Regions from separate parts of the Homo sapiens genome. Here region 2 is linked to region 1. The links come from fine-mapping of genetic effects on gene expression. A gene starts in region 1. The other region holds a variant in brackets. All regions are shown on one strand. Distances are from middle to middle. Region 1 holds the start of LINC02471 (long intergenic non-protein coding RNA 2471). Region 2 overlaps LRRK2-DT (LRRK2 divergent transcript).

What was found.
Region 2: its variant is fine-mapped to the expression of LINC02471 in esophagus mucosa (GTEx, PIP 0.94).

The regions. Positions count from the first base shown.
Region 1 is chr12:40,154,152-40,159,539 of GRCh38, reverse strand. It overlaps LINC02471 (long intergenic non-protein coding RNA 2471), which reads right to left and starts at 3,301. Exons shown (of 2, transcript NR_146526.1): 1 at 3,197-3,301. LRRK2-DT (LRRK2 divergent transcript) reads left to right here. Exons shown (of 9, transcript NR_186757.1): 5 at 822-962; 6 at 1,485-1,686.
Region 2 is chr12:40,173,565-40,178,952 of GRCh38, reverse strand. The region is part of intron 1 of LRRK2-DT (LRRK2 divergent transcript); the gene reads left to right. Among named protein-coding and RNA genes, the nearest start is that of LINC02471, 20 kb to the right of the region's middle. The variant C/T (reference allele first, on the strand shown) is at 2,370.

The DNA of each region.
Region 1 (5,388 bases):
TAAAAGAAGGGAAAAAAAGTCATCTCTTCTGATATTTTAGACATTGGAAATAAACATATTGTATTAGAGTTACGTTTTAAGTCCAAAAAAGTCCTTTAGGCATTTTCCAAAATGGAAAAAAAACATTTTATCTCATCTGTATTACATTTCAGATCACCAGTGAACAATTGCTTTTTGGAAACTATAAACTCTAGTTATTTAGGTGGTAACTGCCTTCCTAAAGTAATTCTCACTTTTTCTCAGTATGTGGTAGATTTTTCAAAATGGCAGGAACACGGTCCCCTCAATATCTTTAGATACTTGTTATCTTCCTAAATTTATCTTTCACTCCATAGCCTTTTCCATGTGAATTTGAAGTGTCCTTTTATTCTGATGCTGGGGTCTGCCAGCATTCTGGCAATGGGAGACTAGGTGATGGGATACAGCAGATCTTGAAAAGCACTCATGCGAGTGTGCATGCCTGTGCTTGCCCTCTTCCTCTGCCATGAGAACATGCACCAGCTAGCCTGCTAGAAAACAAGAGACATGGAAAGCACAGCTGAGCCTCCCTAGTTGCCACAATGCTATTACTAAATCAGATGACAGCCAGTTGACTCCTAGACATGACAGCAAGCCCAAAAGAGATCAGCAAAGCCACAAAGCTGACCACCCAAGACACACAAGGAAAAAGCATATATTGTTGTGTGCCACTAAGGTTTTGTGGTTGCTGGCTACATGTCATTATTGTGGCAATATAGAGCTGATTCAGCAGATACATCAGGACTGTGTTGGCACTGTTTTATAATAAAGTGAATTAAAGAGCTTTGGAACATCCTGTACAGAAAGCAATGAAGAGAGAGAGTCTGAAGTGATTATGAAAAGAATATTGAGCAAGAAGAGGAACTTCTTGAGTAAGAAGTGGAACTGAGAGGTGCTCATCATGACATTTAAATATTTCCTGAGAATTCTCAGAAATATTAGGGGTGAGGAGAAAGCTAAATTTCCTATAGCCAAATGTAGCTTGGTGACACAAAATACTGTATTTGGTTATTTAAAAGAAGAGGGGGAGGTAAAACGTAAGAAGGCCAGAGCACCTGGGACCTTGTTTTACTAAAGCTTATTATGGTGAGTTTCTTGAATCCTTAATGCAACAAGGGAGGGAACAAAGAATAGAAAGTAAAGAATGTGCTTCTTTTTCCCATGATTAATAAGCCACCAAGGAGCAGAGACAATATGTTATTTATTTATTTTGTCTCCCACAGTATCTAATACTGTGATTTATGCATAAATTAGCACTAGTATGTGGTTTGTTGAATTCAGCTGGACAATTATGAAATAATTACATTGTAATTCCTTTGAGTTCTACATTAGAGTTCTCATCCAAGATTTTTCTGAAAGCCACATTCAAGTGTTTGAAATTGACACAGAACCCCATGTTTATTTGCATATAGTTCAATTTTAAGATCTAACCAACCTAATCTAACTTCATGTAATTACAAATTTAGTTTCAGTGGCCCTGGTTCCCCATGACAAAAGTACAAAGAGTACCCGCAAGAAGTAAGTTGAAGATAAGGAGTGAGGAGAAGGAAGGTTAGTGGTAAGGCCACCAGTGATTCTAACAGCAAAGGGACAAGAAAAAAGACTGGAACTTTATTTAGAGGATAAAGCTGATGCCTGGCTTGCCATCTTGCCCAGATGGGACCTCAGGTAAGTCATTTAATGTCCCTAAGCTTCCTTTCCTTTAATTACTTCAATTATCTGCAAAAATGAAGTGAATAAATATGCCCTGTTTACTTCATTGATCATAATGAGAATGAATGGATACGGGATATGTGAAAGCCATACAGACATTACACAATGTGATAAACCATCATCCTAACACACAAACCTAATCTTTATTGTGACTCAAGATTAGGGAACACTATGTTTTACATAACATCATGCTGATCTAACTCTAGCTTTATGATGTTAACTAATCTTTTCTAAATCCAGAGAGCATAATACCACCCCTTCGAAAAGAAGTGTCCACTTGCCCTTTGGCCAAGCTGTAAACAGACGCACCAAGAAACTTCCTCAGTGAGGCTGTCATCTTGGCATTAGATCCATGAGTCAGAGATTTTGGCTGGCTAAATTGTAAAGACCACTTTGAATAACTTGCAATTGTCTTGTTTCTTAGACTATGCACACTTTCTCTCTTTCAGTTAACGTTAAAATGATATATGCAATAAATTGCATATTTGAGTAAATGACATACGCAATAAATTACAACATATGCAATAAAATCAATTAGGTAGCCTTTTCTGAAATTCAGTAAACCCACCAGGAAGGGTCAGAGATAAACCCTTGATATCTAGCAAAAACAAATAAAAATAAGATTTTCAACAGATCAGTGGATTTCATAAAAGATAGAACGTATAATATGAAAGAAACACTGAGGGTACATGATCATCTGTGAAGCATAATGTAATGAGAACAATACTGGACTTGAACTAAAAGTTTTGTGTTCACAGCCCAGATTTACTCCCAACTATATGATGTTGAGCAAATTACTGAATGTCGCTTAAGCCTACGTTTTTGCATTTATATAAGGATAATAGTACCACCTACCTTACAATATTACTGAAAAAGATTCAACTGGGCAAGGCTAATTAAATAATAATAAAGTATACCATATTCTTAGTTTCCTTTTTTAAAAAATCTTTCCTGAATTTTGGTTAGAGTAAGTCCTGATTCAAAGGACAGATGTGTGTGTCTTCCTTCCTTGAAACTAATACTGTTTCTGGTGAGCTTTTGCTCATCCAACTCTGTAATAGAAATCCCATATTCTTGCTATAAATAAAGGCCTTTATAATTTGTGACATTTACTTCTTACCTAAATATTCTGCAACTGCAGATCTCAGACTCTGGCTCTGTCACATGAAAAAAGTCTTCTGTGTGCTCACTGCGTCAGCATACTCTACCACCCTTTCTGTATCACCTCATATGGTAGGAGCTTACATAATTGTAAAGTGGTTGCATAGCAACCAAATTATCAAACACCTCCATCCCACTTTTTCTGTCTTAAACCCTCAAACAACTAGTGGAGCATTTTCAGTTAACAACAGTCTTTAATCAGAGGAGAGAAAATTCCAGGTTGCTGATTCAGTTATTTCTTTTTATTTACCTCTATTTTTATATTCACCCGGCTCGTGTGAAAAACAAAAACTGAAGTACTCACAGATGAGGCAGTGTTTAGCATCTAAACACACCATATGCCAAGGGATAGATGTTGTTGTTGCAGCTGTCCAAAGTTAGCCAGGTTAACACTGACAAACAGCTTCCCCCAGAACATGAGAAAACCACGGCCGCCTGCTCCTTGTTGGCTGGTGGAGTGAAACAGACTTTACAGTACACTGGATCAGCTAAACTGTGAATTACAGGTGAACCAAAGCCATTCTGTCAGTCATTCAAGGAAAAATGACTTCACTCAGCTAGAGGACACTCCCTTGACAAAAAAAAAAAAAAGGAAAAAGGACTTGAGAAATCATTGAATCAAGACCTTCCTTGCTCAGTTCAATTGATTTGCCTAAAGTCATAAAAACAGTAACTTAGTCGCAAAGATGTAATAAGGAAAAATCTTCCTACTTGAATTAAGGATTCCTCCAAGGAGGCAGCATGATACTGTTTTAAGAGCACAGGGCATTAAGTATAACCACCTTGGTTTACATTCTATTTCTCAATTACAAGCTACCACCAAGTTAACTTTTAGGGGTTTCAGTTTCCACAATGCTACCTTACAGCATTATTTGGAGAGCTGCATAAGACAATCCACATGATATTCATGTTACTGCACCTTGTGCAAGTTAAGTACATGTTAGCAATTATTATTATTATTATTCGGTGGTCTAGGAAATCCAAATTTGTCTGGTCCAGAAACAAACAAATTGTCCTATGTCTTCAAAAGAATGGAGCATCCTACATTCAATGGAACTGTAAAGTCAAATAAGCTTTAAAAATTTAAAACTATATCTAAATCACTGACTATTTGGTTTAAAATTCTGTCCCCCCTGGTTCTTGGATGACTATTCTAAGTGTTCAACAAATTTCACCAGCTCAAAACAGTAACCACATATAATGTGGAATTAAGAAACAAGAGTTTGTATTTCTACCTAAAACTCTCATTTGACCCTTTAAACCAGATTCCAGTTTTTTTTTGCTTTGTTTGTTTGTTTGTTTGTTTTTTGGTGGGAGGAAAGAGGAAGAAAATGAACAAAACAAAAATATATGCAGTATAAGAAACCCGGTCTAGTTTGAGCCTTGAGCCATGACGTAAACATTCTTTTAAAGAGAAGCTTCCATGATTAATTACTACAGTTTATTTTTTCCCCCTCTAGGAAATCAACAATCAACTAGATGTAACACTTGGGAGAGTTTATTTTTGGCTAGCCTAGTAATTATAGCCAGAACAGAGCAGGGCAGGTAGATAGGAAATATTTTAGAAACTATTTTATCAAAGCATCAGGATTTTCAAAAAGAACAAGGCAGGGGTTCCCTCCCACACTTAAAATAACAATGAAAAACATGGCTGCGGTTAGATTCTTTAAGAAAAAGAATAAGTTTGAGTCTTGCTCTTGGGCCTGGCCACGCTTATCGGTGTTATGCTTTGCATGTCAGATGCTCTCTTCTGTAACAGTCTTCTCTTTGCCTAGTGAGGAGGAAGACTCATTCTTTCTGCAACCTCAAAGAGTTAATCAATATGAACATAAATATTCAACAGATATCAATTGTCCTTTTGCCTACCTCTGTGATACCAGGAATATTTTCTCAAATGACTTCCAAGTGTTGTTTTGCCATGTCTGTAAAAACAGACTGTCAGAAGTGTCTGGATCAAGCAATGGGAGCAGTTAAATAGAGCTTTCACCCCTTTCGTCTTTCTTCTGGAATAATTTCTCTGACTCTCATGCATACAGTGCACACTAGCAGATGCTAGCGTTTTGGCGTTATCTGTGACCTTCTATAAAAGTTGCTACTAAGATGGGCGCAGCAGCTCATACCTGTAGCCCCAACTACTCTAAATGGCTATGGTATTCTCAGGCTAAACTCATTACAGTGTAATAATCTGCTATTCCAAAAATATTTATTTACTTGATAGCACAGTGGACCCTGAAAGGCATTGTAGGTCTTTTTGTTTGATTAATTGCCTGTTCACTTTGTTTTCAAACATCATCAATATAGAAGAGGAAAATGATATTAACAAAGACCATATAGTGCTTAAAGTATGTGAAGCTGGTTAAAATATTCCCAGTTGATATTTCTTTCTCTGGCCATATGAAGAAATTTACAGGCCAGTCATGGTGGCTCACATCTGTAATCCCAGCATTTTGGGAGGCCAAGGCAGGAGGATACCTGGAGCCCCGGAGTTTGAAACTA
Region 2 (5,388 bases), 19 kb before region 1:
CTCATGCCTGTGATCCCAGAACTTTGGAAGGCTGAGGCAGGGGGATCACTTGAGGTCAGGTGTTCAAGACTACCCTGGCCAACATGGTGAAACCCTATCTCTACAAAAAAAAAAATACAAAAAATGAGCCAGGCTTGGCAGCACGCACCTGTAGTCCCAACTACTTGTGAGGCTGGGCATGAGAATCCCTTGAACACAGGAGGTGGAAGCTGCAGTGAGCTGAGCTCGCACCACTGCACTCCAGCCTGGGTAACACAATGAGACTCCAACTCTCCAACTCAAAAAAAAAAAAAAAGTAAATTCAACGAAAGTTGCAACCTCTAAATGCTCTCATGCAGGCTGATTAGTATAACAGTGAAAGAACATTCAGTGACATTTTTGCCTTATCTTTAAGTCACGGCTAATTCATCTCAGATTTTTGAACAATTTACAAATAACTCTTTTTAAGACAATCCATCCAAAAATTGAGAGTCTTCTATACAAATGAAGTAGGTAAGCATGGCCCATGACTTTCGGTTTTGTATTTGGGAAGACAGTGTATACACATAGACAAAGCCCAATGATGTTTACAACACATGTTTTTAAAAGTTTAGTTTGATGTATGAATAAGTAGTTGGAATCAGTTCTAGCTTAATGCAAGTAATCAGAAAAACTATAAACATGATTTCTATACTTAAAACATTAAACATCAACTTTTTGAAGAAAGTACATAGCTTCAAAGTGCATACCATGTACTATACATTTTAAACTATGTATTTATTTTTATTAAATTCAGAGTTCATTCCAAAAATTATCTCAGTCTAAATTCAGTGCTTATGCAAAGTCACTAATTTTGAAGTCTCCTCTTCTGCCTCCTCCATACATATAGAATAGAAGCACTAGAAAAGCATGGCTTTTTCTTTGAAGAGATAAAATTCATATGCAAGCATAGTGTATGAAAAGATATATATTCCACAGGAATCTCTTCTTTTTTTAGTTTTACCGAAAGCAGTATTTTTGCAGTTATACATTCCAATATTATAATACCATGCAAGTGAAATGAGCAATTCTAGTTTTGGAGAAATTTTCTTTCAAATTCCTTTAAAACATGTCCATATCTTTTTTTTTTTTTTTAAATCTGTGCTTAAATAAAAAACAAAATCTGAAATGTTTGCAAAAGACTTCCACACATAGTTTACCTTACTACACTGTAGGAAATGAAGCCTTGAGTTAAACCTTTTGTAGAAAAGGTCTCATACATATCAATGAGGAAACACAAAGACAACAATGGTGAAAAAGCTAAGGGTGTGAACAGAAAACTAAAAAGAAGAGCTACTGCTCAGAGGACTTAAGGACTTAAAGTCATGGCACTCAAGAAAAGCAAACTAAAACAAAATATCAATATTCATCTTAATTAGCATGTTAGGTGTTTGTTGTTGTTGCTTGTTTGTTTTAGACAGAGTCTCACTCTGTTGCCCAGGCTGGAGTGCAGTAGGGTAATCTCGGCTCACTGCAACTTCCACCTCCCATATTCAAGCAATTATCCTGCCTCAGCCTCCCGAGTAGCTGGGACTACGGGCGCACACCACCATGCCCGGCTCATTTTTGTATTTTTAGTAGAGATGGGGTTTTGCCACGCTGGCCAGGCTGGAGGCTAGAAACCTCTAATCAATGTGTCTGCCGGGACATGCTCTCTCTAAAGGTACTAGGACAAGATCCTCTTTTGCTTCTTTCTGCATCTAGTGTTTACTGGCAATCCTTGACTTAAATTTAGCCTAAAGCTGCCTCTTTACATATTTTAAGTTTGAAAACACCTTTGCAAAGATTATGGCAGTAAAAGAAGTCTGACATGGGCCAGGTGCGGTGGCTCACGCCTGTAATCCCAGCACTTTGGGAGGCCGAGACGGGCGGATCATGAGGTCAGAAAATAGACCATCCTGGCCAACACGGTGAAACCCCGTCTCTACTAAAAATACAAAAAATTAGCCAGGCGCAGTGGCAGGCGCCTGTAGTCCCAGCTACTCCGGAGGCTGAGGCAGGAGAATGGCGTGAACCCGGGAGGCGAAGCTTGCGGTGAGCCAAGATCGCGCCACTGCACTCCAGCCTGGGCGACAGAGCGAAACTCCGTCTCAAAAACAACAACAACAACAAAACAAAACAAAACCCAAAACACCCTAGCCTCTGAGTTCTTAGACTGATTTGAATGATAACTCCAGTTCTCCCATATGCCTGGGCTTGTGTCAATTAAACTCTGTCTTTATTGCAATGCCATGGTCTCAGTGAATTGATTTTTGTCTGTATAGCAGTGTAGCAAGCAGGAAGAACTGATTAGGTGACGTCAAGTTCAGCCTAAAGGTTTCTCCATACATAGTGAACAGTAGCTAACTGTA[C/T]GTGTAAACAGAGTGTAACTTACTCTTCCAACAGTCACAGAGATTTAGCACATCATTGGTAGCCAACTGTTCAAACCCTGCTTAAATAAGAGAAATGCCAAGCTATAGCCAATCCAGCTGTTTCTGTACCTCACTTCCAATTTCTGTAGGTCAGTTTCCTTTTTCTTTCCATAAATCCTCTCCAACCACATGGTAGTGTGGTGCTAGATTGTCTCTGAGCTTGTTCTGATTGAAGGGGTAGGGCTGCCCAATTCACAAATCATTATTTGCCCAAACAAGCTGTATTACATTTAATTTGTCTAAAGTTTTTCTTTCAACACTTAGCATTTCTTGGCTTGCAGCTGCATCACTCCAATTCCTGCCTCCATCTATATACAATGTTCTTTCGACTGTGCATGTGTGTTCACGTTTCCCTCTTCTTACAAGTACACCAGTCATTGAATTAGAGACCACCCTAATTGAGTATGACTTCAGTGTAACTTGATTGCATCTACAAAGGTCCTATTTCCAAATAAGGTCATATTCTGAAGTTGTCTCCAGGGAGACACAACTTTGTGCTATTCAACCTGTATAATTAACAAGAATTTTTACTTAATGATCTGTCCACTGTTTGGAATCAAACAGTGTTCATCTGTCACTCTACATCCAAACAGCCGCAGCCTGACATTTTCGCCTTCTGAATCTGACTTTTCCTCACCATTACCTCTCCGTCTGTCTCTATGTTCTCTCCTCCACACCACACCAGGATGACCCTTCCAAACCTCAATCATGGAATGTCACCCCTTTGCTCAAAATCTGTCTAGAGCTTCCCATCACGCTTAGAATGAAGTACAAAGATTTTGCCAGGTCTTACAAGGCCTTACATACTCTATACCCTGGGTCCCTCTATGACCTCATTTCTAACCCACTTCACTTTGTTCACTCTTCTCAGGTAGCTCTGACCTTTACGTAGATTCTCTCTGTTACCACCTCTCATCATTTTCACTTGCTGTTTCCTGTCTGGAATTTTCTCCCTCAACACTTTACCATGGCTGGCTAATTCACTGTGTCCAGATCTCTGCTCAAATGCCACTTCTTCCATAAGTTCTTCCTTTTAGTGAGTTATAGGTATGCAGTACTGGAACATATGCAGGAGTACAACCTAAATAGGAAACGAAGCACTACCTGATTAAACCAGACCAGCAGGCTTCACCCCTCCAAATTTGATGTTTCTAGTAAACTGCATTGGAGAACGCAGTTTAGATCTGAAGCAGAAGTGAGACTTCCTAGTCCCTTTCCTCTGAACTGAAGGCAGCTGATTCCATAGCCTGGGCCCAATATGAATTGATCACCCAGTTGCAGGAAGTTGTATCTGAGTCAGAGAACAGTGGTTCTCTCTTCTATGTGGGTAGGCCTGCCAGGTATAAATACCACTCAGCCACACCAAACACAATGGAGCCACTTGTGCCTGGATGCAAAAAGTAAACTAAGTGTGGCATATCCTCCAGCTTGAACCATAAAGCATAAAGAGCCTACCCAACAATCAATATGTATCAATGAATGTCAAGTTCTAAGTTACCAGAATTACCATCTCTTCTATGAGACAGTATTATAGGTTGAATTGCGCCCCACCAAAAAATGTTTAAGTACTAAACCCGAGAACCTACGGATGTGATCTTCTTTGGAAATAAGGTCGTTGCAGATGTAATCAATGTAAGATGAGATTGACCTAGCACAGTGGCTCACACCTGCAATCCCTGCACTTTGGGAGGCTGAGGTGGGTGGTTCACAGTTCAAGAGATCGAGACCATCCTGGCCAACATGGTGAAACCCCATCACTACTAAAAATACAAAAAATCAGCTGGGCGTGGTGGCATGCACCTGTAGTCCCAGCTACTCAGGAAGCTGAGGCAGGAGGATCACTTGAACCCAGGAGGCAGAGGTTTCAATGAGCTGAGATCGTGCCACTGCACTCCAGCCTGGCAACAGAGCAAGACTCCATCTCAAAAAACAAACAAACAAACAAACAAAAAACAATGTAAGATAAGATCGTACTGGATTAGTGTGTACCCTGGTGCAATGACTTGTGTCCTTATAAGAAGAGATACATTAGGACACAGAAACACACAGGTGGGCAAAAGACCATGTGAAGACAGAGGCAGAGATTGGTATGATGCAGCTGCAAAGCCAGGAATGAATGCCAACTGCCAGCACCCACCAGAAGCTAGGAAGAGGCAATGAAGGATACTTTCCTAGAGCCTTCAGAAGAAGGCATGGCCCAACCAACACCTTGATTACAGAATACTAGCCTCAAGAACTATGAAATAATAATTATGAAATAATAAGGCACCCAGTTTGTGGTACTTTGTTATGGCAGCCCTAAGAATCTAATGCAGGATTGAAAAAGGAATGGATTGGAGAGAAAATATGGAAGTGTTCCTTCCCTTCCAACTCTCCCTCAAGTGGGGAAAGATATTTTTGTAGAAGTTTTATTAAACCTATTAGTAGAAGCAAAAATTCAGGAGAAAAACAGGGAAGTTCTCACTCTCCAATATTTTATTTCTTCATATCCCATTGGGTGAAATAGCCAAGCCTATGTTTGGGCATGCATTTCTCTTGGGGAGACCAGCTGAGCATCTGGGCCAGCCTTCCCCACCTTCATGAGCCTGCTTATGTCTGTTCCCCTGTGTCTTCCTTACTCAGTGAACTGGGGAGTTTAGCACTGGACCCAGTGATCTTTGAAATAGGTCAGAAAGAGACAGAAATTATCTAATTCTATAGACATGGTACAACCTACGCCAAAAAATCGTTTTCTATTTCCTATTTCAAAATGTACTCAGCCATTAGTCTTAAAACACTCACCAGAGATTGGTTATGAAATAACATCCTCAGCCCAGTTTTTAAATGAACCTTTCACTTCCATTATTAAATCCCAGAAAGAAATTAAAGTCCAAAAGTAAAGTTTCTGTCCATATTTTAAATTTAAGTTTAAAGAAATTGAAGCTCAGTATTGTTTCCTTTCTAATTCTGTTTTCACCTC